Linked DNA regions of Homo sapiens. The protein of the gene in region 2 interacts with the protein of the main gene of each other region in a pairwise test. Each region holds a gene or a part of one and is shown on either strand. Other genes may lie near its edges. The genes, in order: TNFAIP8, SDCBP, PSMC6, CCDC106, NADK, CADPS and SCG3.

Region 1 (4,157 bases), on a different chromosome or scaffold from region 2:
TTTTCTCTGACATGTCTTCTTTACTATGTTGCCTTTTAAGGTTAGCATGTATTTTTCTGGAGTATAAGAAACAGAGTGAATGACTTAGCTTGCCACTGTAATGGTGCCTGTCACTGGTTCTTAACCACTTGGGGGGATGTGCATATACCCCAAAATGTGCATTCCGTATCAGGTTAAGGACTTCAGATGTATTGATTCTCCCAAGACTATGTTCTGTGTGACAGCCTCCATCTGTGTGGCATAAGGCCAATTTTGGGATTAAGGTGCCTGGCACTTGTCTTCTCTCTCTAGTTGATAAGATTGCCTCCAGCTTGCTGCCATGGTCGTTGCTTCTGACCCTTCCAGGGCAGCCCCCTTTAGAGTTCATATCTGTGCTGCTTCTACTGGGTCTCCCTCCCTCCCTCCCTCCCTCTCTTTCCTTCCTTCCTTCCTTCTCCCTCTCTCTTTCCCTCTGTTGTTTCTTCTCTATGCTGTTGAATTTCTGACTTTGGGATTTTGAGTATGAAAGCTGGTGACACTGACACATCACTAGCTACTCCGAGCGTTCATTGCTTTTCTCTGGAGCACTGCCAAATCTCCATGTAGGGAGGTCAACTCTTCGCCTGCTGACTTCTTATGACAGGGTTCGTTGTTTGTTCTGGCCACTTTCTTATCACCAAAGCTGACTTTTTACTAAGTCCCATTAGATTTAGAATTATTTAGATACAAGAGAGCTAAGGTTTTATATATTTATTTAAAGAACTTTTATTAACAGACAACAGCCAGACATGCTTTCCAAATTATTATCTTTTCTATCCTTCCTAATATTGGAAACCTGGATCGAGTTTTAACTAGGCAAGAATTTGCAATGTATGTACATCTGTTGTCATCACTGTTAAAGAGTCCCAAGTATAATAGATTTGAGGGGAAAAAATTATGTATTTACTGGTAAGACTGTAAAGAAAATGATTTGAGTACTTTATTAGAAAATTCTCAGTGGGAGTAGTTATGTTATGGGGCATTTTTGTTAATTTTCATAAAACTAAGTATTAATAACAAAGGACTTTTTTTTCCTTCTGAGCATATTTTTTCTTGAATATTTGGGTCAGTATATTTTAACCATATTTATCTCTAACTTTATAATTTTGATGCTAAAGCCAGAATTCCCTAAATATCACTTTGCCTTACAGCAAATGTTGCTGAAATGGCCAAGGGAGGAGATACAGAGACAGAGAGGGAGGGAGGTAAGATAAGTAATGTAAAATAACATTTACACCCTATTTCTAGAAAATAATCTTAAACAGTTTTAATGTGGTGGTAATGCTTTGTATTTTTTTTTAAATACAGCATTATTCTTCATTAATGAACAATTTACATGTCTGTTTCCAAACACAAGTGAATTGATCTTAAGAGGCAAAAAACTGAATGAATATTTTCAGCACTTTCTCCTTGGGGAACATCTCCTGTTTACATCTTAGTTGCTTCCCAGGACATGCCTTAGGTATCCCTCTGGCACATGTCTAAACATAGATCCAGCCAGAAGTAGAGGTGGGCCTGTGTTTAATCTCCTGCTACAGTTCAAGTCAGAACTACACCTTGCTTTTACTCTAAATATTTGCATTATTGTCCTTGGATGTTTTCCCATTATGCACAACAAATCTCTCCTCTTTAAAAGAACTGGTTGATGACAGTAAGAGAAATCATACTCTGGAGCGCACTTAGAGGGAAGAAAAACCACATGTTTAGTGAGGTAAAACAAATACCTGTTTTTCTACCTTTTAATACAACAAACAAAAACACCCACTAATGTATTTACAACTCTCGTTTTACAGGCCAACATGTTTTCATAGAAAAGTATTTGAGTATATTGTGGATGAGATAGGGGAAATTGATTGCTGCTTCTGGACCAGCCACTCTCTAGGCCTGCAAGTTGACACAGTGAACATGATACACAGAATCTTTGCTCTCAGAGTTTAAATCCTAGTAGGGAGAGGCAGACAATAAAAATGTAGGCAAATGAAGAGGATTTAAGGAACAAGGAGGTGTGATAGTTAGCAAAGAACTTACATGAAGCATCTTTTTTTTTCTTTTCTTTTCTTTTCTTTTCTGAGACAGGGCCTTGCTGTGTCGCCCAGGCTGGAGTACAGTGGCATGATTATAGCTCACTGCAGCTCTGTAGCCTTGAACTCCTGGGCTCGGGCAGTCCTCCCACCTCAGCCCCCTGAGCAAATAGGACTACATGCCCAGCTATTTTTTTTTTTTTTTGAGTTTTTTTTGTAGAGACAGGGTCTTGCTATGTTGCCCAGGCTGGTCTCAAAGTCCTGGGCTCAAGTGATCCTCCCACCTTATCCTCCTAAAGTGCTGGGATTACAGGTGTGAGCCACTGCGCCCGGCCCCATTTGCAAATTTCATTTCTTGAAACTCTGGCTGATATGTGAAAAGAGATAGAAAGGGGTTTGGACTAGGCTGCTGTCCGTGGAGATGGAGGGAAATGGATAGAATTCAGAGAAATGCAGGAGGAAGGTGGAATGGAAAGAACTTAATAATGGACTGGGTGAGGGAGAGAATGGTATGGTGGATGATCCCCAGGTCTCTGATTTGATTGAGCAAAAGGTTGGAAGGGATGCTATTAATTGAGATCATAAAGAGTGAAAGAGGAGCACTTAGTAGGGAGGCAGGAGAGAATCAAAGATCAGTTTTGCATATGGTAAATTTGAGATGCCTGCAAAATAGTCAAGGAAAGAAAAATCTTGAATGCACTTACAAAATGAGTCCAGAAAAGAGGTCAGGGCTGAGTTATGGCTATGGGAGTCATTGGCACATGGGTGGTATCTGAAGCTGTGGCAGTGGATGAGATCACACAGGGGTGAGGATAGACTGAAGGAGAAAAACTTGATCCAGGACTAGCTCTGAGATACACCAGACTTTTAAGGGATCTGGTAGAGCATGTGGAACTGACAAATGAGCCTGCACAGGAATGGCTAACAGCAGTTAATTTGCAAGAAAAAGAAACAAACTTCATGAGCACAGACCACACATCCCTGGCCAGCGACTCTCAGCCACAAGCCCCAGTTGGCTTCAAAAAAACTTTCTCTAATGCTGGAAAATAAATCTACTCATGCATGTCTTCTTGGTGGAGGGGGAGAAAGAGCTTCAGATGGTGGAGGGGAACAAGGAGCTTCAACCTCATTTAAAAAGACGACTTCACTGGAATAACCCAAAGAATAAAAGGAAAGTGTGACACAGCTGCTGTGTTTCTGGAGCGGGGTTTGAAGTTCCTCTAGGATAAATATGAAAGCCTCAGAGATCAACTTCTCTATCTTGATTCATACTTGATTACCAGTAAATGGGGAATGATCTTGCTTAGTTGGCAGTAGATTTGCCTGTTACACACTCTCTTGCAGGAAGTTGAAGTGCTGTATCATAGAGTTTTTGTTTTCCATGTTTGAAGTTAAATGGGATATTGAGATTTAATCAGAAAAGTAGCTGAGAAGAGGTGTAAACATGAAAGTCCAGTCTTGGATAAAGGAGAAATCTTATGAATACCTCTCCCTCTGGTTTCAATATTTCACAACATAAAGTATGTCCAACTGATAGACTTGTAGTAAATCCCAGGTAAGATATTTGTAGACTGTGCCATGTTCTAAAACATTAAAAAAAAACACAATAACATTTCAACTTTATATGTAATATATTACTGAAATCCTGGTTATCTGCTGAGTAGCTGAAAATGGTTGGGTATCCCTATATAAATCAAGTTTATTGATTTTTTTTGAGGTCTATATCAGGAGTTCTAAGATGAAATATGGTCCCTGGTTTTAATGTGATACTGTTAGCTACATGGATGCCATTTCTTTTGACATAAATTCTTTAGTGTGAATTAATCTTTATACTCTTTTGCAAATCATTGAAGAATAGGAATAGAAACAGATTTCTGCTTAAATGATAAAAACATAAAACATTAAATGATGGAAACTTCTCCATAAAGTTGGCTGTTTCTCACACATTTTCACTTTCCTTCTCTTTTTCAAAATATATTTTAGTTCTTCTGCAGTTTCAGTTCATGTTTCAGAAGTTTAAATTTCGACATTTGTGAGGGGACCCTTTCTTATTCAATCAAGACATTCTTTGAGTGGATGTATGGCACTGTATATTTATAAATGATGTTCAGGTCATAA
Region 2 (4,157 bases):
AAGGAAGGTAGTATTCATTTTCTCATCTGCTGGCCTTTAACACCACAGCAAAGCTAAATTACAGCAATGAACCAACCATTCATATTTTGTAAACTATTCTGCAGTAGCCACTAGGCTGTGGCTTTTAGCATCATACAGTCCCTAGACCTTTTTCTCTCCATTCCAAATCCTGACAAGAGCCTGTGGTTTCCTCTACTTATGCAAAGTAAGCTTTTAATAAATAATGATATACAGAACCAGAGCTTATCAGTTTCCTAATATGGTGGGCAGAATTTGGCAGCAGTGACGCTACAAGCATGTTTTTTCCACATCCTTTCTGTTAATGGCAGAAACAATAGGCCCTGGCATGCTCCTTGGGGCACCCCAACCCCTTTTTTTAGTAGTGTCACATTTCAAAGTAAGTTTGAAATAAGTAGCTACATTTAATGGTTTACAGTACTTAAAATTGGGTTACATCCTTTTGTTTCATTTTTACTGCAAATAACATAATTAAATTTAACTTTGCAGGGAGCTTTCTATATGTATTCTTCAGTATTCCTTGGATTAAAAACAATAGCAATGAAAGAACAGAAATTCATAACTACATACAAAGGAGAAGTATTTTAAATTAATAAGCTGTGTTTTAGAGCAATTTTAGATTCACAACAAAATTGATCAGAAAGTACAGTATACCTTCTGTCCTCACACATGCACAACCTCCCCCAGTATCAGCATCTGCACCAGAGCAGTACATCTGGCTCATTAATATCACCTGAAGTCTACATATTTACATTACATCACATTAGGGTTCACTGTTGGTGTTATATGTTCTGTGGATTTTGACAAATGTATAGTGACGTGTATATAGTCATGTGTTGCTTAAAGACGGATATGTTCTGAGAAATGCCTCATTAGACAGTTTTGTCGTGCAAACATTATAGAGTGTACTTCCACAAATGTAGATGGCATAGCCTACTACACATCTAGGCAGTATGGTATAGTCTGTTGTTCCTATGCTACAAACCTGTATGATCCCACCTGTATGATACAGTAATACTGCATGTTACTGTACTGAATACTGTAGGCAATTGTTACACAATAGTATTTGTGTATCTAAACACAGAAAAGGTATGGTAAAAATACAATGTAAAAGATTTAAAATGGTACATCTGTATAAGGCACTTACCATGAATGGAGCTTCCAGGACTAGAAGTTGCGCTGGGTAAGTCAGTGAGTGAGCGGTGAGTGAATGTGAGGCCTAGGACATTATTGTATACTGCTGTAGACTTTATCAATACTCTATACTTGGGCTGCACTAAATTTATTTAAAAATTTTTCTTTCTCGAATTATAAATTAACCTTAGCTTCCTGTAACTTTAATTTTTTAACTTTCTGACTCTTGTAATAACATAGTTTAAAACACAAACATTGTACAGCTGTATAAAATATTTTCTTTCTTTATATCCTGATTCTATAAGCTTTTTTCCTATTTTTTAAATTTTTAGTTTTTAAAAATCGCTTGTAAGTTTGTTAAAAACTGAGACACACACTCACATTAGCCTAGGCCTGCACAGGGTCAGGATCATCAATATCACTGTCTTCCACCTCCACATCATCCCACTGAAAGGTCTTCAGAGGCAGTAACATGCATGGAGTTGTCATTTCCAATGGTAATAGTGCCTTCTGGAATACCTCCTGAAGGACCTGCCTGAGACTGTTTTACAGTTAACTTTTTTTGTAAGTAGAAGGATATACTCTAAAGGGTATAACACAGGAAATACATAAATGAGTAACATAGTCATTTATTATTATCAAGTATTATGTACCATGCATAATTGTAGATGCTATACTTTTTTATATATGACTGGCAGTGCAGTAAGCTTATTTACACCACCATCACCACAAAGTAATGAGTTGTTCTGTGTGACGGCAGCTATGATGTCACTAGACAGTAGGAATTTTTTAGCTCTTTTATAATCTCATGGGACCACTATTGTATATGTGGTTCATCATTGACCAGAACAGGCAGCACATGACTGTATACCATTGTAGCATTAGACAGAATAGGTTCACTGCTCGAAAAATTCTTTAATGCCTGTTCTTCCTTCCCTTCTAGAAACTCCTGGCAACCAATAATTTGCTTTTGCTTTTGTGTTTTCTTTAGCGTCAGGATGTCGCTCTGTTGCCCAGGCTGGAGTACAGTGGCACAGTCATGGTTCACTGCAGCGTCCATCCTCCTGCCACAGCCTTCTAAGTAGCTGGGACTACAGGCATGCACCACCACACCTAGCTAGTTTAAAAAGAAAATTTTTTTTTCCCCCAAAACGGAGTCTGGCTCTGTCACCAGGCTGGAGTGCAGTGGTGCGATCTTGGCTCACTGCAACCTCCTCCTCCTGGGTTCAAGCAATTCTCCCTGCCTCAGCCTCCCGGGTAGCTGGAATTAACAGGCATCCACCACCATGCCCGGCTAATTTTTGTATGTTTACTAGAGACAGGGTTTTGCCATGTTGGCCATGACAAACATGACAACATGCCATGTTGGTCAGTTGAACTCCTGACTTCAGGTGATCTGCCCACCTCAGCCTACCAAAGTGCTGGGATTACAGGCATGAGCCACTGTGCCTGGCCAAAACAATTTTTTGCATAGGCAGGGTTTTCCTATGTTGCCCAGGCTGGTCTTGAACTCCAGGCCTCAAGCAACTCTCCAGCTTCAGCTTCCCAAAGTGCTGGGATTAAAGGCCTCAGCCACTGTGCCTGGCCTAATATTTTATTATCTCCACAATTTTGCATTTTTCAAAATGTCGTATAGTTGGAATCATAAAGTATGTAGCCTTTTGAGATTGGCTTCTTTCACTTAGTAATATCCACTTAAGTTTCCTCCATGTCTTTTCATGTCTTTATAGTTCTTTTTTTTTTCCCAGTGCCGCACAGTATTTTTTTTGTTAGACATGATTCAAGAAGTAATATAACAAGCCACTAGCTCCTTTTAGCTAATCGGTGGTGAAAGAACTTTCAAAGTTCAACACATGTTCAATTTGTGGATTGTTATTTATAATTATAAAGATTTTCATGCTGTATTTTGTTTAAATCTAGAATGTTTAACAAATTATGAAATAATAAATATTAAAGGATGACTCAACAAGTATATCAGAACATATAATTTTAGTACCATTCAAAGCTTTCATAGGCTTTACTTATTTAAACTAAGCTTTCATATCTCCAAGCATCTTTGGGAATACTCTTGACATTGATTTTAGGGCTAGGTTGAGATACTACTATGAACTTCATTTTTAAAATGATACATTTCCAATAAAGTAAAAAGTTGGTAGAGATTGGTCATACAACTTATTACCAAACTTGTCTCTAATGACATATAGCTATTTCAGAAAGTCAGATCTAATTGTAAAGGATAAAGTATTTCCATCAGTGAGATACTTCATATGATGTAGGCCATCAAGACAGCCCTGAGAAGAGGATACTTGAGCATGAGTAGCATTGATAAATGCTAGAGTGTCAGAGTGTGTCAGAGTGATTTTGGCAAGTTTGTTTAACAGTTACAAATTACATTACCTTGTCATCATCGATTTATGTCAGTGATAAACTGTGCTATTTTCATAATTTCTGATATTTTAAAAGTATTTAGCATAAACCCCTTCCTATACTTGCTGCAATGAAGATAAAGATGATTTCAGTGGGACATGCTTAGTATTAATTTTTTAGGTGTTTTTCTGATATGTGACTTTTATATGAATATGGGTAAGGTTTTTTCTTATGCAAATAAAATATTTTTACTTGGACTAATTAGTAAAAGAATAATGAAAATGTAAAATTTATTCATTTTAGAATGCACTTTGAAAATATTAATTTATTGTGGCAGCACTATGAAGTGCTGGTTATAAGACATGTAGAATGGTACTTCTACAATTTTTTTGTGATAGCCTTAAAAGTATTTAGAATATCAAATATAGTTTTGATTTGCAGATTTCCTTTGGAAAATGTATTGCTGATGTGTTTGAAATTAAACTTTCTTACATAAATCTTCATTGTTTTAGTTTCTTTTTGGAAGTACTGGATTTAGCTTATAAATTATATAAGAATATAAAGTAAGTATAGCATATTGTTAGAATTTTCTTCTTTTCTTTTTCAGGCTCAAACTGCTTTTTCTGCAAACCCTGCCA
Region 3 (4,157 bases), on a different chromosome or scaffold from region 2:
GGTTTTAGAATATTTGTGTTGTACTGGTTGAGCATCCCTAATTAAAAAAAATCAAAAGTTTGAAATGCTCCGATGAGCATTTTCTTTGAGCATCATGTCAGCATTCAAAAAATTTCACATTGTGGAGCATTTTGGATTTTCAGATTAAGAATACTCAGCCTGTATTTCCTATAGATGTAAACATTGAAATAGCTTCATATTGATTTCTCCTCTTATTTTTTCAAGTAACCTCACTTCTTAGCCGTTTTTTCCTTAATTGTTATATTAATCCTAGTGTTTTGCCTATCTTCCTAAATTTGAAGCTCTTTGTAAAATCCTGTGACAAGTGGTCAGTAATTTATATGATTCCGAAATTGTATTGGCACGCAGTTTTTTAAACTATTAAAAAGTAACTTGGGTCGGGCGGGGTGGCTCATGCCTGTAATCCCAGCACTTTGGGAGGCTGAGGTGGGCAGATCACGAGGTCAGGAGATCAAGACCAGCCTGACCAACATGGTGAAACCCCGTCTTTACTAAAAAATACAAAAAAAAATTAGCCGGGCATGGTGGCACACACCTGTAATCCCAGCTACTTGAGGCTGAGGCAGGAGAATTGCCTAAACCAGGGAGGCAGAGGTTGCTGTGAGCCAAGATGGCGCCACTGCACTCCAGCCTGGGCGACAGAGTGAGACTCCGTACTCCATCTCAAAAAAAAAAGTAACTTTATCTTTGAAAAGTAACAACATCCTGAGAGTGAGGCAGATCTAGTAGATTCTAATTTTAGCCAGATAAGCCAAGAAATTATTTAGTATGATTCAACCTAATGTGTAATGTGTTCAGCATGTGCCTGTCATGTAGCAAAGGCATGAGTGATGGTTGCTGGGTTTTGGGGCTTTAAATTTAAAGCATTTTAATAAAAATCTCTAAGGGGAAACCGTGCATTTTTCTCTACTCTCATGAGCATTTAACACATTCTTCCCAGAAGCTGTACATTTCAAAATAAATCTGATGAGCACACCTTTAAAATGCTTCCCTTTCCTTTCCCTAAAATGTTCACTAAGGGATTTTTCTATAAATGCTTTGGTAGCAATTCCCAAAGTCACTGTACCATTGCTGCCTCAAGCTTTGTGTGTTAGTCATTTCACATTTTACACTGAGATTACACAAAGGGGCATGCTTTTAAGGAGCAGGTGGAAATCACTTTGAATTACTTATTTTATAAGCCATTTTGTTAGCATAGAGTTTATAATCTGATATTTGTGTTCTCTCTGGAGGGTAAAAATGAGTGTTTGGCTTCTAAATATTAAACTCTCGTTAGAGTGTTATTCCGTTTTTAAGTGTTGATGTAATATCTTTTGTTTTACAAAACTAGCTTGACAAAAGTAAGCTGAAGCCAGGAACAAGAGTTGCTTTGGATATGACTACACTAACTATCATGAGGTGGGTTTCTTATTCTATTTAGTTCACCTTTTATTTTCACAAAGGGTGGTTTTTATCTGAGATATATGCTTCTTGAGATCACTGAATATTTTGGCACTTTTTCCCTTTTACTAGTTTCTAATTAAGCACATCTTTATGAGATCAGCTACAGGTGCTTGCTTGAGCAAGTTATTTATATGCTATCTGTAGGCTAAGAGAAAATATATCTTTCAAAAGAAAAATACATACCTTTTCATTCTAGATATTTGCCGAGAGAGGTGGATCCACTGGTTTATAACATGTCTCATGAGGACCCTGGGAATGTTTCTTATTCTGAGATTGGAGGGCTATCAGAACAGATCCGGGAATTAAGAGAGGTTGGTACTGTGTGCCTTGTTCTCTGAACTTAGCTAATAAATACTACTAGTTTTAGGATTCTTAACAGGAGAAACAGGATGAAAAAGTACTTTTTGTCTAAATGGTAGTTAAGAATATTATGTATTTACTATTCTTGCTAAGAAGAATAGCACTGAATTTCTAGCTGTGAAAATTACTGTTTTTTTTTATTTGGAGATAATTTGGTGTTAGAAAAATCCTGCTCTTTTTGTGGCAAAGGAACGGAGAAAAAGCTAAAAATAATTGATGTAATCTGATATCCTGTGGTTTTGATTATCATAATAAGTTACTTGGGTCAGAGCATATTTGGATAATGTGTGTGATGAGTTTTTTCCATAACCTCATTAATACTAGCTTCCCACTCTTACAGAAGAGTAGGGTACCTGTTCCTTAAATATTTTATTTTGTTAAAGCTGTTTGCTGCCATTCCAGAAAACCACTGGCTTTAGGATTGTCTTAAATCTTGTAAGCTTTTAGGTGAACAGTCAAATCAGGATTGCCTTACTTCATAGCACAGACAGCTTCTTAACTGTTATCTGTAAAGCAAATTACATTGTCCTATGGATTTTATCCTAAATTAGGCTGTGAATATTTAGGAATTAATGGGAATAATTGGAATGTCTTACACAATCTGATTTAAGCTTTAAGCCAGTTCTCATACTTCAGTACATTAATTTTTTTTGGAACACTTATTAAAAATACACATTACTAGGCCCTCTGAGTGGTTTTGATGGACTAGATTGGGGGTAGGCACAGGAATTAGCATTTAAACAAGCATTCCAAGTGATTATGAAACCAAATTTTTCTTTGACAATACTTGAGGAAGCACTGGTCTAAGTGTAAAAAAAAAAGGCAGTTCTCACCTGTATTAATGAAAGGGCAACAGAGGAAGAACAGGTGCTTCATAAAACGGTGAAAACTTGCTTTCAACAGTGATTTGCTGCATTAGCCATAGGAGCAGAAAGAATCCCATGTATACATGCAGTATCCTTTACTGTCTGCAGATACTTTACACTTTAGAGTATTGATTTCTCTCACTTCTGGCTTTTCCCAGTCACGCTTTATGCACATATGGACACAACTTTTTTTTTTCTTTTGAGACAGGGTCTGGTTCTTTTGCCCAGGCTGGAATGCAGTGGTGCAGTCTCAGCTCACTGCAACCTCTACCTCCCAGGCTGAAGTCATCCTCTCACCTCACCCTCCCAAGTAGCTGAAGGCATGCGCCACCACATGTGACTAATTTTTTTATTTTTTGTAGAGATGGGGTTTCACCATGTTGTCCAGGCTCTTCTCGAACTCCTGAACTCAAGCCATCCTCCAGCCTTGGCCTCCCAAAGTGTTGGGATTTACAGGCGTGAGCCACCGCACCTAGCCCAACACAACTATTCAATAGAAATTTCTCTCTCGGTCAGGCATGGTGGCTCACGCCTGTAATCCCAGCACTCTGGGAGGCTGAGGTGGGTGGATCATCTGAGGTCAGGAGTTCAAGACCAGCCTGCCAATACAGTGAAACCCCATCTCTTCTAAAAGTACAAAAATTAGCCAGGTGTGGTGGTGGCGCCTGTAGTCCCAGCTACTCAGGAGGCTGAGACAGGAGAATCTCTTGTACCCGGGAGGCAGAGGTTGCAATGAGCCAAGATCATGCCATTGCACTCCAGCCTGGGCAACAGACTCTGTCTCAAAAAAAAAGAAATTTCTCTCTTAAGTTACTGGTACTATAAGTAATTTAAATTGGACTTTCAGATCTTCAATTTCTCTAGTCTCTACTTTTCTTCCTTGAATCAGTCTTGAGAGCAGAACATACTGTTCTTTAAAAGCTGCCGTGGCAAAATGCCAACAGATAAAAATTGTATATACCTTTTCTCTTGGTATGTTGTCAAATCCATCCCCCATTTTAGAATTATTTTGTGTTGTATTTTCAAATGCAAACTAGTATAGATCTTTTGAGTTGTGTTTTTTGTTTATATGTTCATTTGACTTAACTGATTTTTTTGTGGTATAATTTTTCATTGAGGTATAATTACATTAAAAAAATGTAGATTCTTAAGTGTACATTTCAAATATGTTTGGACAAGTTATATATCTGTGTAACCATCACCCCAATCAAGTGTGTGGTTTATTTAAAAAACATTATTTGAAATTTTTTAGATTTAAGAGATCTTAAATCTACCTGGAGCAAAACCTCTTAATATAAATGGTTTTACCTAGCATGGAAGTCTAGGTCTATTAAGAATTATGATGTGTACACCTAACTAAGGTGATATTTGACTTAGAGTATTTGAAAGTACATTAAAAATCTTGACTAACTTTTTAAGAAAGATTTAACTTCTTTTCTAGGTGATAGAATTACCTCTTACAAACCC
Region 4 (4,815 bases), on a different chromosome or scaffold from region 2:
CAGGCTGGTCTCGAACTCCTGACCTGAGGTGATCCACACACCTCGGCCTCCCTCAGGGCACTAGGCCTCGAAACAAAAGTTTTTTTTTTTTTTTTCTTTTGAGACGGAGTCTTGCTCTGTCGCCCAGGCTGGAGTGCAGTGGCGCAATCTCGGCTCACTGCAAGCTCCGCCTCCCGAGTTCATGCCATTCTCCTGCCTCAGCCTCCTGAGTAGGTGGGACTACAGGCGCCCGCCACCATGCCTGTCTAATTTTTTGTATTTTTAGTAGAGACAGGGTTTCACTGTGTTAGCCAGGATGGTCTCGATCTCCTGACCTCGTGATCCGCCCCCCTCTGCCTCCCAAAGTGTTGGGATTACAGGCGTGAGCCACTGCGCCCGGCCCACAAAAATTTCTTTACCATAGTTAGCTTTAGTTTGTGCATTTTTTTTTCCATCAACTATTATTATTACTATTTGAGACGGAGTCTCGCTGTGTCGCCCAGGCTGGAGCGTGGTGCGATCTCGGCTCACTGCAACCTCCACCTCCCCGGTTTAAGCGATTCTCCTGCCTCAGCCTCCTGAGTAGCTGGGATTACAGGTGTGCACCACCACGCCCGGCTAAATATTTTTTTAAACTGCTGATTTCATCCTATTCTATTGAATTCTCCACCCATGAACCTGTAGTTTGGAAAAGACCAATCTAGGGCAGATGGCTCCCCCTGGAATTTTTGGACCAGGCTGCAGTTAATCTGTAAAGTGGGGAGGGGAGGATCATGGTCACAGCTTTGCAGGCGGTGCAGACATTTAGATTCTCCCTCCATCGGGTTAAGACCTTGCTCTTATAAGGGCTGGCCACAGTCCAGAGCTTGGATGCTTCTGGTGAACAGGAGAGGCAGGTGGAGCTGAGCCTGAAGCTTAATAAACATCTGCTTATTCATTCATTTTTCTTGCCTATTTTGTGCCAGGCACTGTGCTAGGCCTCATTTGCTCTTCCGACCTGTTTTTTTGGGAGGAAGAACAAATCTTCCGTTCATACTCCCCAGAGTGGGAAAGAGCCTCCCAGAGGCTGCCATCATACCCCACCATCTGACCTCAAATAATACCAGCAGCGCTCCTCTCTTCAGCCCTGACGATGGCCAGGTGCTGGGCTGAGCTTCTGTGTGTCGCATCACTGCATCCTCACAATAAATTTAGAAGGGCTTGTAATTTCCCCATTTTGCAGGTGAGTTAACAGGCTGGGGAGGAGCAGGAACAGTCAGGACTGGAATCTAGCTTTGCTCCAAAGCCAGCTCTTAATTACCAACATGGGGATGGGGGTGGCGTGTTCCTGGCCCTCATTTTCCGGGAGAGGGGTAACTCCCCCGATTTTGGCCCCCACATCCCTGAGAACCTTGGGGTCTGGCTGTAGGAGGTAGGGGAGCTCTGAGGGGTCCGCGCTGGCTAGTTCCTGAGAGAGCGTTAAAAGTAGATTCTCCTTTCGCTCCAACTTTCTCGGTGTCTCAAACACTCTCCTGCCTTCTGGGCCCATTGGGCACACCGCCACCCAATCCGGGGACCCCCGGAGACTCGCCAGCTCTCCAGGATGGGAATTTCGTGATGTTCCCTGCCTGAGCTTCGGGGAGGGCGGGGGAGTGCTGTAAGGGGCTATCGCGCAAGTGCAGACCCTCTGCTTCTGCCGCAAACGGCGGGCCTCACCTGGACCCGGGGACTCTTCAACGAGGGGCGCTAGCCTGGCCCGACTGGGCGAGTCCCCGCGTCCCTGCCCGTTCCGTCGCTCAGTTCCACGACACGCTCCCCTGCCGCCCCGCCTGTTCGCGGGTGGGTGGGCGCTTCCCTCGGCTCCCCGTGACACTTTGCAGACGCTCCCCGGCGCCGGGCATGGGCGCCGCCGCCGTCGGTCCCCGAGCCGGATTCCGCGAGCGGGTGGGTGAGCGCGGGGGGCCTCGGCCCCTCGGACCCCGGGCACCCGCGGGCGGGGGATGGTGGCCGCGTTTGCACCCCCGCCCTAGTGCATGTTCCCGCTGGAATCGTTCCACGACCGCTCCCCCTCCCACCCGCGGGACAAAGGGCGGGGGCGGGGGGGGCGCACCCCCACGCGTGACCTTTCCCCGTACTGCGCACGCGCCCAGCCCCCACCACCGGGGGACGGTCCGCCCGCCCACGCGAGTGCGGGGGAGGGGTGTGGGGGCCCCGAAGGTAGAGGAGGCAGCGCGCACGGGCTGGACCTCCTCCTACCCTGGGAAGTTGGGGCAGTTTCCCCCTGCACCTGCCTCTTCCTTAGGCCTGGCAGTGGCCCGCGATGAGAGAGGGTCCTTCCCCTTCAGGCTAGGTGTCCCTGGTCAGGCGACCCCTTGGGGCACCCAGCAATTTAGGGCTTCAGCTTCCTTTTCCTTCGATACCCAGGAGCCCACGTCCCCAGCTCACTTCTCCCCCAGGACCTAGGCGGCTGGGCCCCCTGCCCCTGACTCCAGGAGCCCAGGAGTTTGAAGCCCAGGCGCGTTTTGCCTCAGTCCTGGGGTCCAGGCTCCCTCCTCCCTCAGACCAGGGGTCCAGGCCAGAAGGTCCCTCCTGTCTCACTTCACCTCCCCCAGGATGGACCCTCCAGTCCATCTGCGTCTCTCCATTTGTGGCTGCCGTTTCTGTCCAGTGCCCCTGAGGCCCTCGGCTGCTGGGGTCCGTAGGAAGCCGCGCCATGAATGACCGGAGCAGTCGGAGGCGGACAAGTGAGGAAGCTGGGTCCCCTTCCCTACCCTGGGTCCCAGTGCGGTCGGCTCCAGGCTGCCGTGGTTGGGGGGTGGCCTGAGAGGCCCGGGGAATTCTCTGGGGTAACCCGGGGCCTCTCCTCTCCAGTGAAGGACGATGAGACCTTCGAGATCTCCATTCCCTTCGATGAGGCACCCCACCTAGACCCACAGATCTTTTACAGTCTGAGCCCCTCTCGGAGAAACTTCGAGGGTGAGCTGAGGGGGTGTGGAGGGACTGGAGTCAGCTGGGAAGCCAAGCCCTGAGTCCCAGGGTGTGACCTGGTCCCCCCACCCTCGCTGTGTCCCTAGAGCCTCCGGAGGCTGCGTCCTCCGCCCTGGCTCTGATGAACAGCGTCAAGACCCAGCTGCACATGGCTCTGGAGAGGAACTCCTGGCTGCAGAAGCGCATCGAGGACCTGGAGGAAGAGAGGGACTTCCTGCGGTGCCAGCTGGACAAATTCATCTCTTCTGCTCGGATGGAGGCAGGTGTGTGTGGGGTGCTCTGATCCACATGCCTCCCTGTCCCGCTACTGGGTACCCGCTCACCCAGACTCAAGGCTCCACTGTTTGGCTGGCTGGGTGGGACCTGCCATGTTGGCCCTATCTGCTAGTCCCCTGCCTGTTTTGGGCCCCCAGGCCCAGCTGCCTCCTCACTTGATTCCAGGGCCTCATCCCCATGAACTGTCTACTGGGGCCCGTCCTCCTGCCTTCTCCGTCAGCTCCCCAAATCCCATCAGCCTCCAGTGCCCTGCCATCTGCTTCCTTGGCCCATGGTGACTTCAGGGACCCTGGCACCTGAGAGCCCCTCTCTTCTGACTCCTAGGGGGACCTTCCTTCATCTCTTTGGCCAAGAGGCCCACCCTAGTTCTTTGGGTTTCCTCAGGGGGCCCCTGCTCCTCCTCCCGTCCCTGTCTTCTCCAAGATCCAAGAGTCCAGCCATCCGGCCTCCTCCTGTCCCCCCCTCCCCTCTGTGACACCAGGGGCCATCTTCCCACCCACCCTGTCCCATCCTTGGTTAATGAGCACTCCTTCCCCATCAAAGACATTAAGTCCCTTCCTTTGTGGGCCTTTTTGGGTGGTGACCCCAGCAGGTGCTGTCCCTCAAACCCTGCCTGATTCCTGGGCAGTCCCCACCCACATACCTTGCTCTGCTATAATTCATGGCCAGAAGCAGCCCAGATAGCTCCCACAGCAGCACCCAGCCCCAGCCAGTTCACAGCTAGCGTCTTCTCTTGACTGGTGGGACCCTGTGCCCTGTTTAATACATTTTGGACCCCAGCCCCATCCTCTTCCCCGGATGGTCAGGCCGTTTGCCCGACAGCCCATGGCCTGGAGAACCCACACTCTACCCCACCTACCCTCATCTCAGCCTTGCTAGCTCCTTGGCTGGGAAGACCCCTCAAAAGCTCCCACATCTCTCTTTGTGAATTCAACCCTTTCCCCAAAAATCCTAGGCAAGGGGGCTATGGTCTTGTGGTGTCTCTGTTACTGGAAGCCCAGCATCTGGGGATCTGGCTTTCCCTCTGCTCGGGAACAAACCACCTCTGGCTGCCCTTGGGCCTGCCACTGTCTCCTCTCACTGATGGTTCCATCCTGGGTGACTGACTCCTTTGCACAGACAGTTTGGCCCTGCGGCTTCGGCACTTTCCCAGTGGGGACCCTGGCACCAGAGCCCTCCCCTAACCCGCCTTCTAGAGGAATCTGTGTCTGGGCCTCCGCCTGCCGGCTCCCTCTGTCTAGATGGAGGTGGGACCCAGCCTGCTGGACCCAGGGCCCCTGATTTCTCTCGGTCTGACCCCCCGACTCCAGCCAAGGCCTTGCCTGCCTCCTGGGTTTCCAGAGGCTACTCTCCAGAGGTCCCGCCCAGTCCCCAGAAATTTCTCCCTCCCCTATGGGAACCGCGCATAGTCACAGGGGTCCTGAGGCCCCTGGTCGGCTGCCTCCGTAAGACCTCTTGCCAACCCAGGCCTCTGAGAAAATGCTCCACCCATTACCACCTCCCACAGACCCCAACTGGCTCTACTCAGCCACCAGCGTCTCTACCGTACTCCTTGTCTCTCTGTCTCTTTAGGGGACCAGCCCAGGTTGGGGG
Region 5 (4,157 bases), on a different chromosome or scaffold from region 2:
ACAAGAAAAAATGACCATGAATAAGGAATTGAGTCCAGACGCGGCTGCTTACTGCTGCTCGGCCTGCCACGGCGATGAGACCTGGAGTTACAACCACCCCATCCGGGGCCGGGCCAAGTCTCGCAGCCTGTCTGCCTCGCCCGCCCTGGGGAGCACCAAGGAGTTCAGGTACAACTGGGAGGGATGGTTCCTCTTTTTTTTCTCGTCTGATTTCATAATATTCTTTCTTAAAACGATTATGAAGAATTCTCCTGAGTAGTCTGCGTCGATGCATCCGGAAGGTGAGGCTGGGTCCTTGCCCAGGTGAAGCTGTGCCCTTGAAGGGGGATCCTGGCCCATGGACACCTGCCTGGCGCACGTTCCCAGGTGCCAGCACAGGCACAGGGTGCCACCGTGTTTCTCTATCTGTCTGTATCAGCACAGAACCATCTAACTGGCGCCTACGCTGACCCTTGATGTTAGACTGAAGCGCACTTGGAGAGGAAACTTTTTTTTGAGACTGAGTCTCGCTCTGTCCCCCAAGCTGGAGTGCAGTGGCGCAATCTTGGCTCACTGCAACCTCCGCCTCCCAGGTTCAAGTGATTCTCCTGCCTCATCCTCCCAAGAAGCTGGGATTACAGGCGTGCACCACCATGCCCGGCTAATTTTTGTATTTTTGTAGAGACGGGGTTTCACCATGTTGGCCAGGCTGGTCTTGAACCCCTGACGTCAGGTGATCTGCCCGTCTCAGCCTCCCAAAGTGCTGGGATTACCGGTGCAAGCCACTGTGCCTGGCCTGGAAACATTTGCTCTACAGAAGTCACTGGGGTGTGAGGGGACATCCCTCTTGGCTCTGCTTGTTTTGAGAGGCGAAGGCTGGGGGGTTCTGCACTGTGAGCAGGGCTGGTGGAGGCAGAGTTATGAGCGTGGCCTTGGGCGGGCCCAGCCCTCTCACATGTTGGGCAAGTGGCTCCCTCCTGTGCCAAGAGTGCCCACAGCGCTCACCCTTGCACAATGCTGCTTGGGCAACAGCGCCCCGGGCTTTGCATGACGGTGGCCGCACAAGCACAGCTGTGATGGTGCCTGGGGATGGTGCTCTCGGTTCTGGTGATGGTAAATGTGGTGAGTTTTAGGTGGAAGCTTGCCAGAGCCGGCGCTGCCTAACAAGGATCACGACTATCAAATGCAAGGGGGGCTTTTTGGTGAAAAGTAGTCTTAGAAAGCATGTTGTCTTACCCAGTGAGATGGGAGAGCCTGTAGCGCCTCTGACGTGGTGGCAGCCGTGGAGAAACAGGCTACTCCCACGTTTTCTGTCTACAGAGTCGCTGCCTGAGCCAGGAGGCTACGAGCGCTGGTGGCTGCCTTCATCCCGCAGGCACCACGTCACCACTCAGCCTTTCTCAGATGCCTCGTTGCCTCGTTGTCAGTGGGGGTCGTTGTCCTGTACCTCCAGGCCACCCCAGCGCAGTGACTGCGTGAACAGAATTGCTTTGGGGTTTTATTTTTTTTTCCTGTGGGTTCTTTGGCATAATGCACCATTTCTGTTGCATTCTGAACCTGATGACAGCAGCCCTGGGTCAGAGGTCGCCTCCATAGTGAGTGACAGGCGCCTTCAGGGTGAGGTGGGGGAGGAGGTAGCCAAATACGCCCAAGCATAGCCTGTCCTTGGGAAGGAAACATTAAATCCCAACACCCACTTCGAGAAACATTGTTTTCCGCAATAATCTTTTCAGTTCGTAAGTAAGTAAAATTCTTTTGTAATGTACTTCGTTTTCTTCTTCTTTTTTTTTTTTTTTTTGAGATGGAGTCTTGCTCTGTCGCCCAGGCTGGAGTGCAGTGGTGTGATCTAGGCTCACTGCAAGCTCTGCCTCCCGAGTTCAAGTGATTCTCCTGCCTCAGCCTCCTGAGTAGCTGGGATTACAGGCATATGCCACCACGCCTGTCTAATTTTTGTATTTTTAGTAGAGATGGGATTTCACCATGTTGGCCAGGCTGGTCTCGAACACCTGACTTGAGGTGATCCGCCCACCTCAGCCTCCCAAAGTGCTGGGATTACAGGCGTGAGCCACAACGCCCGGCTAATTTTTTGTATTTTTGTGTAGAGACAGGGTTTCACCGTGTTAGCCAGGATGGTCTCAATCTCCTGCCTCGTGATCCGCCTGCCTTGGCCTCCCAAAGTGCTGGGATTACAGGCGTGAGTCACTGCACCCGGCCTGTACTTACCAATTTTTAAAAGGCTGAGGTAAACAAGTCCGTGACCACTGATGGCCACGCCTGTGTCACCTGTGGAGCAGCCCTCAGGGCACCACGGCTCTCCTGGGGTTGTCTGGCCCTGCGAGGCAGCGGAAGGCCGTTCTTCTGCATTGGGACTTGAGGATTTTGTTGGGCCGTTGCCTGGCCAGCTGTGTGCAAGTTTTCTGAGTTTGTGAAGGGACTGGGAGGCTCCCGGGCACCTAGGACGAGGGCAGCCTCAGTGCTGGACCCTGAGGAGCACAGCGGTCCTGACAGCATTCTCCCCAGGACGCGTGCGGCTGCCACAGCCCCTGGCTGGGTGATTTAACTGTGACCTGGCCATGTTTAAATCACTAGGAAAGTTGTTGAGCCGTTCATCTGGCGTCTTTTATTCATTCATTCATTCATTCATTCATTCATTCATTTTGAGACAGAGTTTCACTTTTTTCAGCCAGGCTGGAGTACAGTGGCTCGATCTCGGCTCACTGCAACCACCACCTCCTGGGTTCAAGCAGTTCTCTTGCCTCAGCCTCCTGAGTAGCTCGGACTGCAGGCACACGCCACCAGGCCTGGCTAATTTTTCTTTTTTTAGTAAGGATGGGGGTTTCACCATGTTGGCCAGGCTGGTCTCAAACTCCTGACCTCACGTGATCCACCCACCTCAGCCTCCTGAAGTGCTGAGATTACAAGTGTGAGCCACTGCGCCCGGCCTACGTCTTTTTTATTGACATGAGTTCAGAGTGAACATTTGTGCTAGAATTTTAATCTAGACGATTTAGAGATGAGATGTTGTCTCAGGTTTTGAGTCCCAAATGCAGATCTAGAGAGGGGTCCTGGAGACACTGAGGAATTCTGATCCCAGGCTGGCCCTGGCCCTGGCATTTTCCTTGTTTGGGCTGAAGCTCTCCCCGGCTTGGGTCATGATCTGAGCGGCGCGTGGGCATGCGTGCTCCTCACAGGTGCCGCTCCAGTGCAGCCATGGACCTGGGCAGAACCTTCCAAGGGCTATTGTGTGGCTGCTGGGCAGATGGAGTTGGCATCTTTCAAATTGCATGTATGCCTTACCGTGTAACCTCCTCTGTATCTGTGTCTGTCACTGCATGTCTGGTTTCAGGCCCTGGTGGCTCTGACACTGCCCTCTCCCCACAGGAGGACACGCTCTCTTCATGGGCCATGCCCGGTGACCACTTTTGGACCAAAGGCCTGTGTGCTGCAGAACCCCCAGACCATCATGTGAGTGCTGGGGCCCCAGGACGGGGGGTTCTTGGAAGGGAGAGAACCCCTAGACCATCATGTGAGTGCCGGGGGCCATGGGATGGGGGAGTCCTCGGGATGTGTGTGGAGTTGTGGGATCGCTGTGTTGAGGAAGATTCTAGCACTTCATGTGAGAAGTACATGTTTAGGTCATTTAAACAAAAAGCCACATGGGCGTCCTCCCTGAACCCCCTGAGTGCAGGCATCCGAGCGGGGGCTCCCCAGCTGTGGCTTTTCCAGTGGCTTTGAGAAAGTGGACGGCAGGCGAGCCGGGGCCTGGAGACCGGGTCACAGCCCGTGGGTGTGGCGGCTTCCACATGAGATCCTCAGGGCTGCCTTTTTGTTTCTTTAAGAGTGAGTGAGAATTCTGGGGTGGGTTGCGTTTGCTATTTGATGGTTCAGTTTGTCAACACATTCTGCCTGGAGGCCCGTCATAGTGTCATGGGAAAAACGCAACAGTGATCGATCTGATATCTGTGTTTTATGTGTAAAGAATTATAATCCAGGCTGGGCGCAGTGGCTCACACCTGCAGTCCCAGCACTGTGGGAGTCCGAAGCAGGCAGATCACTTGGGCCCAGGAGTTTGAGACCAGCCCGGGCAACATGGTGAAAGCCCATCCCTACAAAAAACACAAAAATTGGTCAGCTGCGGTGGCTCACACCTGTAATCCCAGCACTTTGGGAGGCCAAGG
Region 6 (3,500 bases), on a different chromosome or scaffold from region 2:
CTCTAAATAAATTAAAAATAAAAATTGTGTCCGACAGAGGTGGGTTGAGTTCTAGTCCTGTTACACACTGACTCTGGGACCTCAGCTATGTCTGAGCCTTAGTTGCTTCATCTTTAATAGGACCTTCCTTGCCTAATTGCTCTCAAGACTAAATGAGAATATATATACCTGGACAGTTCCATTATTAATATATTAAGGTTAGAATATATTAATATATTAAGGTTAGAAATGAGCATGGTGGTATGGTGTCCATATGCTGCATAGAAATAGAAGAAGAGAGTTGAAAGTTGATAGAATCAATTCACTCCCTGGGCATGGAGGAAGGGAGGTGCAAGATGGAGCAGGGGAAAAGGGCATAGAAAAGAAAAGGGAAAGTACTTTTGCTCCTAATCTAGCACCACCTACCACAAGGTCATGGCCCAAGATCTGCTTCTGAAACTTTGCCCAGAATCCTTTACTTTTTGGTGAAGAAGATTTTTAAGATTTGAAAATACATTTTATTTTAGAAATGAAAATGCACCTTGCCTCAAAGAAGGTAAAATTTGTATTTTTCCAGGTAGAAAAGATGTGTTTCAAATGACCGTGAAAGTAAAACATGCCCACTATAAAAATAAAACAGACAATGTAGAAAAATCTCTGCATTTACATGGTTAAAAAATACTTGCAATCCCATCATCCTAGATAACCAAAATTAAACTTTGGTTTCTATCTTTCCAGGTACTTTCAATGTATCTATGCATGTCAAGATAACTATTTGGCTTGCATATTAAGGTGGGAAATTACCACAAACTATTAAGGACCCACTTCTTTTATTTAACACAGTTGTTTTCAGTCTCCTTCCTACCTTTCCAAAGGTCACACAAATGGCATACTCTCATCAGTAAACTGTCTTATTTCCTATGGTATTCTAAATCCAGAGCCATGTTCCTATCCTCCAATCCCACCTCACCCCTGCCATTGGAAGGCTCTGGTCCATTATAACCATATATCATGGACATCTTTGGATGGTAATGAAAAAATATATATCTTTTTTCATGGCTGCATGATATTCTATTTAAAAATAACAGCTAACTTGTATTACATTCTTAGCCGAATAGTAGGCAACAGGCTAACCAACTTGCAGGCATAATATCACTGAATCAGGATTCAGGGATCACCAAAATCCTACAAAGGAAGGTTGTTATAACTCCCATCTTAAAGGTGAGGAAATTAAAGCCCAGGAAGATTAAGTAACTTGCTCAGGTGGCAAAGCTAGCAAGCAACAGAGCCAGGATTTGAACCCAGGTGTTCTAATACCAGGGCCCATCCTCCTAACCATGATGTCTACCCCTTTCATTATTTATGTGCCCATTTATTAATAGCAACGAGGTGTGTGTTTCTTGCAAACCTTACTTACTCCAACATCTAGATGTTTTTCTTATTTATATTGAAAGGATATGCTTTTTCAGAACAGGAATGAATCTGCTGTGGCTTCTCAGCTTATCAGCTAGCAAATGGGAGCTAGGCCAACCTCATCTGTAATGTGAACAGTCACTAAGTACTGATGTGTTTGTATGTTTCTAAAATGACCTTGAGGTTGCTTGGCTCTGGTGATGGAGGGAAGGACTGATGGATGAGGTCGAGTTGCTGAATTGACTGTCCTTCACAATTCCATATTTATTTGTTTATCTTCCATCTCTCATTATGACCTGTCTGGAAGTTGGCAGAAAAGCAGGGAGGATTTATGGATGTGCCCAGATAGAACTGGGCTTGGGGTTAAAGTCTCTTGTGGCAGCCACTAAAAAGCAAAAACAGAAACAAACACGGATACAAAATACAGACAGAGCTCCCAGCACAATTGAGTTTGAATAGTTGTTTTAGAGACACACAGGCACATCAGTACTTAGTGTTTGTATTCATTATAGGGTGAGGCTGGCCCAGGCCCCACTTCCTCTTTGTCAGACTGAGAAGCCAAGACAGATGATGTGCCTGTAGAAATAGTTTCCTGCTGCCACCTTCTCTCCTCATGGCTGTCTTGTCTCCATTGGGCAATTCATCTTTACTGTCTCCCCAGTCTTTGGCCTCTTTCCTCCATGTTCTTATCATTCCACTCATCTCTCCTCTTTCTGGGATCTGGCAGTTGTATCTTAACACAGGACAGATAGATCCCTCCACTTTTCAAAGTCTTCTCAGTTTGATCCTCAGCAAAGAAGAAAGGCTGGATTCCTTCATTGTTTACCATGAAGGAGAGTGAGACTGATGGAGGTTAGGTGACTTGTCTTCCACTGGTAATTCAGAAGTATTTATTGAGTAGCTACTATGTACAAAGGAAGGGGCTAGTGAAGCAGATGCTATGCCCAGGATTCAGGGTTCACCTGATATGGTTTGGCTTTGTCCCCACTCAAATCTCATCTTGAATTGTAGCTCCCATAATTCCCACGTGTCATGGGGGTACCCAGTGAGAGGTAATTGAATCATGGGAGCAGGTCTTTCCCATGCTGTTCTCTTGATAGTGAATAAGTCTCAAGATATCTGATGGTTTTATAAAGGCGAGTTCCCATGCACATGCTCTCTTGCCTGCTGCCATGCCACATAAGACGTGCCTTTGCTCCTCCCTTGACTTCCACCATGATTGTGAGGCCTCCCCAGCCATGTGGAACTGTGAATCCATTAAATCTCTTTCCTTCACAAATTACCCAGTCTTGGGTATGTCTTTATTAGCTGCGTGAGAACAGACTAATACATCACTCAACCAGTTACACCAGCTGGGACCCAAGTGCCAACATCTTTATTTCTTACCCCTTGTTATCAGGCCCCATGGAAAATCTAGCCTAAGTCTCTTGTTTTAAGAGACCAATATACCGTGTGCTGGTTTCCCGTTGACCTTCTCGCCCCAATCCAGACATAGTCTCGCTCCATATTTTTCCTGCTAGAGGAGTCTGCTTTGCTCTTATAGTTCATTCACTCATTCCACAAATATTTACTGAGCACCAGCTACATGCCAGGCACTGTCTCAGGCACTAAGAAGCAGTAATAGAAACAAACAACGACTACCCTGCCTCCCTGGAACTTATAGTCTAGCTGGAGATCAGATATTTACCAAACAGTCACAAAAACAGTGGCAGATGGCAGCTGTGGAAGGGCTTTAGGAAAAAAGAATCTGGGGCTGAGAGCTTATAACTGAGGCCCATTTCGGGTTTGTGGGATACTAATGTGCATAGATGTAGAGGAGAATATAGCTTCATTGTTGATTGAATGTTTTCAAGTCACCCCTTATGTTTATTAGCACTGACAACAAAGGCTTAACCCCTTAGTGTCCCCACTGCCATCACACTCACCCGGTCTCGTACAAGCACCTCTCAACTGGCCTCCCTGCCTATTTTCTTGGCTCCCTTCATCAGTCTCTTTTCCACATTAAAGCCAAAGAATGTGAACTGGTTTGTGCCGTGTCCCAGCTTAAAACTTTCAATGGCTTTCCAATGCCCTTAAAATGAAGACCAACAACCCTAATCCCCTCCTCC
Region 7 (4,157 bases), on a different chromosome or scaffold from region 2:
CCCCAGGAATTTGCCTGCAAAGGTAGTACATGTGGGGATATTACCAAACTATCTATTCCCTGTATGGAACTGGAATATCAAATCATACAATATATAGAAGGGTACATTGAATAATATGACATGCTATATAAATATGGCATACTATGTTAATAAAAAGTATAATATGGTTTGTATTATTGGTGATAACAATAAATGGAGACTACTTTTCTGTTGCCTTTAGCTTTTCCTTCCTCTTATAGTCACCTAAGAAAGTTTCAGAATGTCCATTATCATACTAAGTTTTTAACATGAAGACCAATTTTATTTCAAACCGAGGGTTTCTGTGGACCGAGAACCACCATAAATACATTTCAAACATATCTGAATATACAAAAGCGAAGTACAGATTATAAGTATAATATGATGCATGAAATAGATCTATGATCACTATGGTGTGAAGTTGTGGTCGTTCTGTCTAGATGATCCAGATGGTCTTCATCAACTAGACGGGACTCCTTTAACCGCTGAAGACATTGTCCATAAAATCGCTGCCAGGATTTATGAAGAAAATGACAGAGCCGTGTTTGACAAGATTGTTTCTAAACTACTTAATCTCGGCCTTGTAAGTCATTTGGTAGGAAATAAACCAAATTCCTAGTGCAGTTTAGAGTATGCCAAGAAGCCAAGTCACTTGCCTCAAGTAGCCAAGTGTTTATAATGTGTCTTCCTTCTACTAGGACCCGTAGGTTTTAAGGACAAGCAAAGCACCATTCTTTTTTTTCTAGGAGTTTATCATCCATCAGAAGAACTAGGCAAGTAGACACACGCCCAAAATGCCAGCTGCTTAAAAACCATAAGAGCCAGAGAATAGCTTATATCCAACTGGCAGTAAGGAAAGGCTTCAGAGGAAGAGGCGTATGAAGGAAGCTTAGAGGGATGGTTAGGATATAACCAGCAGAGGTAAAAGACATGTATGTGACAAAAAAAGAAATAACATGAGCAAAAGCATGTGATGTGTATTTTTGAAACTCCAGGTGATCTAATTTGAATCCACCTCAGCTTGGCTCTTCTGCCCTGACCTGGCCCTGACAGGCTTTATTAAGATGCTAATTTTGTAGGATGTCAAAGGTTATCTGACTATGACCCAAAGCTGTGGAGGGGCAATGCTCAGGGTGTTTCTCAAAATATGTGGTCCATGGGTTTCAACAGATAGAACTAACAGCTTGCATGGTGGGCCCGAAGATACTTCTTCCAGGAGTGCTGAGCAATCCCTATAACAGCCAGCATGTGGTGCAGGCGTAAGTGAGGGCTGTCTGAAAGATGGTTCAGAAGATTCCTCTTTAAAAAATACATGTTTGACTACAGTTTAGTCCACATTATTTTTTAATAACAAGACTGGGAATATAGCAGTTATATATGTTTTGCCTTTTTATGATAGATCACAGAAAGCCAAGCACATACACTGGAAGATGAAGTAGCAGAGGTTTTACAAAAATTAATCTCAAAGGAAGCCAACAATTATGAGGAGGATCCCAATAAGCCCACAAGCTGGACTGAGAATCAGGCTGGAAAAATACCAGAGAAAGTGGTATGTATGTGTATATATGCATATGCATGGGGGTGTGTGTGTGTGTGTGTGTGTGTGTGTGTGTACTTCTATCTGTATAATAATTGCCTTACTTGATACCAAAGAAGATTTGAGGTATGTGGCATTTTTAGCCCATTTATATTCAGGCCAGACATGTTGGCTCAAACCTGTAATCCCAGCACTTTGAGAGGCTGAGGTGGGAGTTGAGACCAGGAGTTCAAGACTAGACCTGGCAACATAATGAGACCCCCATCTCTACAAATAAAAATAATTAGCTGGGTGTGGTGGCACAAGCTTATAGTCTCAGCTACTCAGGAGGCTGAGAGGAAGATCGCCTGAGGCCAGGTGTTTGAGGTTGCAGTGAACTATGATTGCACCACTGCATACCGGTCTGGGTGACAGAGTGAGACCCTGTCTCAAAAAATTAATTAATTAATTAATTTAAAAATATGTATATACATAAAATACCAAAAAGTTAAAAGATATAAATGATCTCTACTCTGAAAATAATGTAAAGATTATGTTATATTCTATTATTTGGTAAAGATTACATCTTATACCCCACAGTAAAATAATACATAATAATATGTGAAGTAACAATATCACATAATAACATCTGTGTGTACAGTCCCAGTGAACTGCAAGCAAACATCTCACAGTTCTTTTGGTATCCAACATCTGTTCACAGCAGATGTCATCATCTGTGCCCAATCCCCCCACAAAGAAGTGGGTTGACTAGATCTTCTGCTACACCAGCTTTTGTGTTCCCCAGAGCTAGCTGCCTAATGCTGCCTCTCTGTTCTTGGCAATGCTCTTCCACCTGCTCCTTCCCCTTTTCATTGGTTTAGATGCCTATTTACCCAGGCTAATTTCATCCTTCCTTCCCTTTGTTGGACTCCTTGCGTCTTCATTTTTTCCTTAGCACCAACCAAGCTGTTGAGATCTTTCTCCCCACCTTGAATTCTCTTTAAAACTTTAGATGAAACTGACCATAAGGGGATATCAAATTCCTCATCTGTCCTTTGATTTTCCTCTGTAAAGCACCCAGACCCATGGCTCCTCATCTCCTCCAGCATCTTATCTCAAATACAAAGACTATAGAGGCTGATGGTTCTGTTTTAGAGAGGAGAGAAAATAGAAATTGGGTCTGGATTTCTTTTTTTTTTTTACTGGATAGCCTAAAAACTTTCCTCTGCTCTCCTTACTTCCAATCCTCACCAGCTGCCATCTTTTAAAGCAGCTTTTGAAGATTCACCCACTCAAAAAAAAAGTTCTAGATTTATCAAAAAAAAAAACCCTTATGACTTTTGCTCAAGCTTACCAGTCTGAGCTAAAATGGACACAGCTATTTCCATAATTCTTCATTCCCATTACATACTCCTATTCACCTATCTCTAAAATGTTCATATGCTTGACCTGTTTACTCATGTTACCTGAATGCATCAATGCAAATAAAACACAAATGAAATATTATTTCAACAAATATTTATTGAATACTAACTCTGTACCAAGCACTGGAAATACCATGCCTATTTAAAAAGACATAATCCCTGACTCATGAAGCTCAAAGTCTAGTGGAAGAGGTAGATCATGTTTAAATCATCATGTATTTTCATTACAATTGCATTAAGTGCTCTGAGGAAAGAAACATGGTTCTATGAGACCTCAAAAAAGGAGGCTGACCTGGACTTAGGCTCAGGAAATGCTTCCCTAAGGAAGTAACTTGAGCTGAGAACCGAAGATCAAATAGGAGTTAACTTGTGAACATGAGAGGCAGCACATAGAGAAGGATGTGTGGAGTATCCAAGCAACTGAAACAAGCACAGTGTTGCTGGCACAGAAAGAAAGAGCAAAAAGAGAAGAGACTGGGGAGGTGGACCCAGGCCAGACCATGCAGCGCCTTATGAGCCATGGATGGACTCTGATCTTTATTGTAAGAACCATGAGAATTTTCTGGTCCCCTGAAGAATTTTAAGCAAAGGAGTTACATGATCAGATTGTTAAAAAGATAACTCTGGCTATAATGTGGAAACGCAGTATTGGGCATAGATTTGGGGAGGGTGATGTTGCAGTTAGCAGGTGAGAAATGAAGGCTGCTTGGACTAGAGTGGCATAGTGGAGGGAGAAATGTGCAAATTTGGGATAAATTTTGAAAGTGGGGCCAACAAGGCTACTGATGGATTGGATGGGGGAAAAGGAAGAAGAGGCAAGAAAGGCTGTTAAATTTCTATCTAGTTCACTGAATGGAGAATGAACCATTTACTAAGATGCAAGTCACTGAACAAAAACCAGGTCTGAGAGAAAGATTTTGTACACTCATCCAGACAGCACTTAAACTTTACCCAAAAATTCCCAGGTGTGACTGCTCTGCTAGGGATAGACATTCTAACAGGCTTTCCTGTATCCTGGCACCAGCCCTCCTGGTGGATTCTGTGAACTCAAAGCTTCCCTCTTCATTAAAAGGCAGTTTTTCCTGGGGAGACTCATGATAATTTATGGAGGTAAACATGGCCAGAGAAAGAGCCCAGAAATTCCCGTTTTTCCCCTGAGCAGGAGCTGGGGTCTTCAGGGGGTTTTCCCTGAGGTAGAG

The links.
Region 1: the proteins of SDCBP (region 2) and TNFAIP8 interact in binary tests that used the Homo sapiens proteins (3 or more experiments, as listed by UniProt).
Region 3: the proteins of SDCBP (region 2) and PSMC6 interact in binary tests that used the Homo sapiens proteins (3 or more experiments, as listed by UniProt).
Region 4: the proteins of SDCBP (region 2) and CCDC106 interact in binary tests that used the Homo sapiens proteins (3 or more experiments, as listed by UniProt).
Region 5: the proteins of SDCBP (region 2) and NADK interact in binary tests that used the Homo sapiens proteins (3 or more experiments, as listed by UniProt).
Region 6: the proteins of SDCBP (region 2) and CADPS interact in binary tests that used the Homo sapiens proteins (3 or more experiments, as listed by UniProt).
Region 7: the proteins of SDCBP (region 2) and SCG3 interact in binary tests that used the Homo sapiens proteins (3 or more experiments, as listed by UniProt).

The regions. Positions count from the first base shown.
Region 1 is NC_000005.10:119,386,570-119,390,726, forward strand, and holds part of TNFAIP8 (tumor necrosis factor alpha-induced protein 8), read left to right. Parts: intron 1-1,174; exon of another isoform or gene 1,175-1,183; coding exon of another isoform or gene 1,184-1,223; intron 1,224-4,157. UniProt on the Homo sapiens protein: Acts as a negative mediator of apoptosis and may play a role in tumor progression.
Region 2 is NC_000008.11:58,566,761-58,570,917, forward strand, and holds part of SDCBP (syntenin-1), read left to right. Parts: intron 1-4,126; coding exon 4,127-4,157. UniProt on the Homo sapiens protein: Multifunctional adapter protein involved in diverse array of functions including trafficking of transmembrane proteins, neuro and immunomodulation, exosome biogenesis, and tumorigenesis.
Region 3 is NC_000014.9:52,709,750-52,713,906, forward strand, and holds part of PSMC6 (26S proteasome regulatory subunit 10B), read left to right. Parts: exon of another isoform or gene 1-1,351; coding exon 1,352-1,419; intron 1,420-1,660; coding exon 1,661-1,775; intron 1,776-4,131; coding exon 4,132-4,157. UniProt on the Homo sapiens protein: Component of the 26S proteasome, a multiprotein complex involved in the ATP-dependent degradation of ubiquitinated proteins.
Region 4 is NC_000019.10:55,646,376-55,651,190, forward strand, and holds the start of CCDC106 (coiled-coil domain-containing protein 106), read left to right. Parts: upstream 1-1,836; 5' UTR 1,837-2,671; coding exon 2,672-2,702; intron 2,703-2,829; coding exon 2,830-2,934; intron 2,935-3,032; coding exon 3,033-3,209; intron 3,210-4,815. UniProt on the Homo sapiens protein: Promotes the degradation of p53/TP53 protein and inhibits its transactivity.
Region 5 is NC_000001.11:1,761,239-1,765,395, reverse strand, and holds part of NADK (NAD kinase), read left to right. Parts: coding exon 1-168; intron 169-3,360; coding exon 3,361-3,444; exon of another isoform or gene 3,445-3,503; coding exon of another isoform or gene 3,504-3,505; intron 3,506-4,157.
Region 6 is NC_000003.12:62,756,917-62,760,416, reverse strand, and holds part of CADPS (calcium-dependent secretion activator 1), read left to right. Parts: intron 1-3,500.
Region 7 is NC_000015.10:51,687,802-51,691,958, forward strand, and holds part of SCG3 (secretogranin-3 isoform 1 precursor), read left to right. Parts: intron 1-458; coding exon 459-601; intron 602-1,417; coding exon 1,418-1,567; intron 1,568-4,157. UniProt on the Homo sapiens protein: Member of the granin protein family that regulates the biogenesis of secretory granules. Acts as a sorting receptor for intragranular proteins including chromogranin A/CHGA. May also play a role in angiogenesis.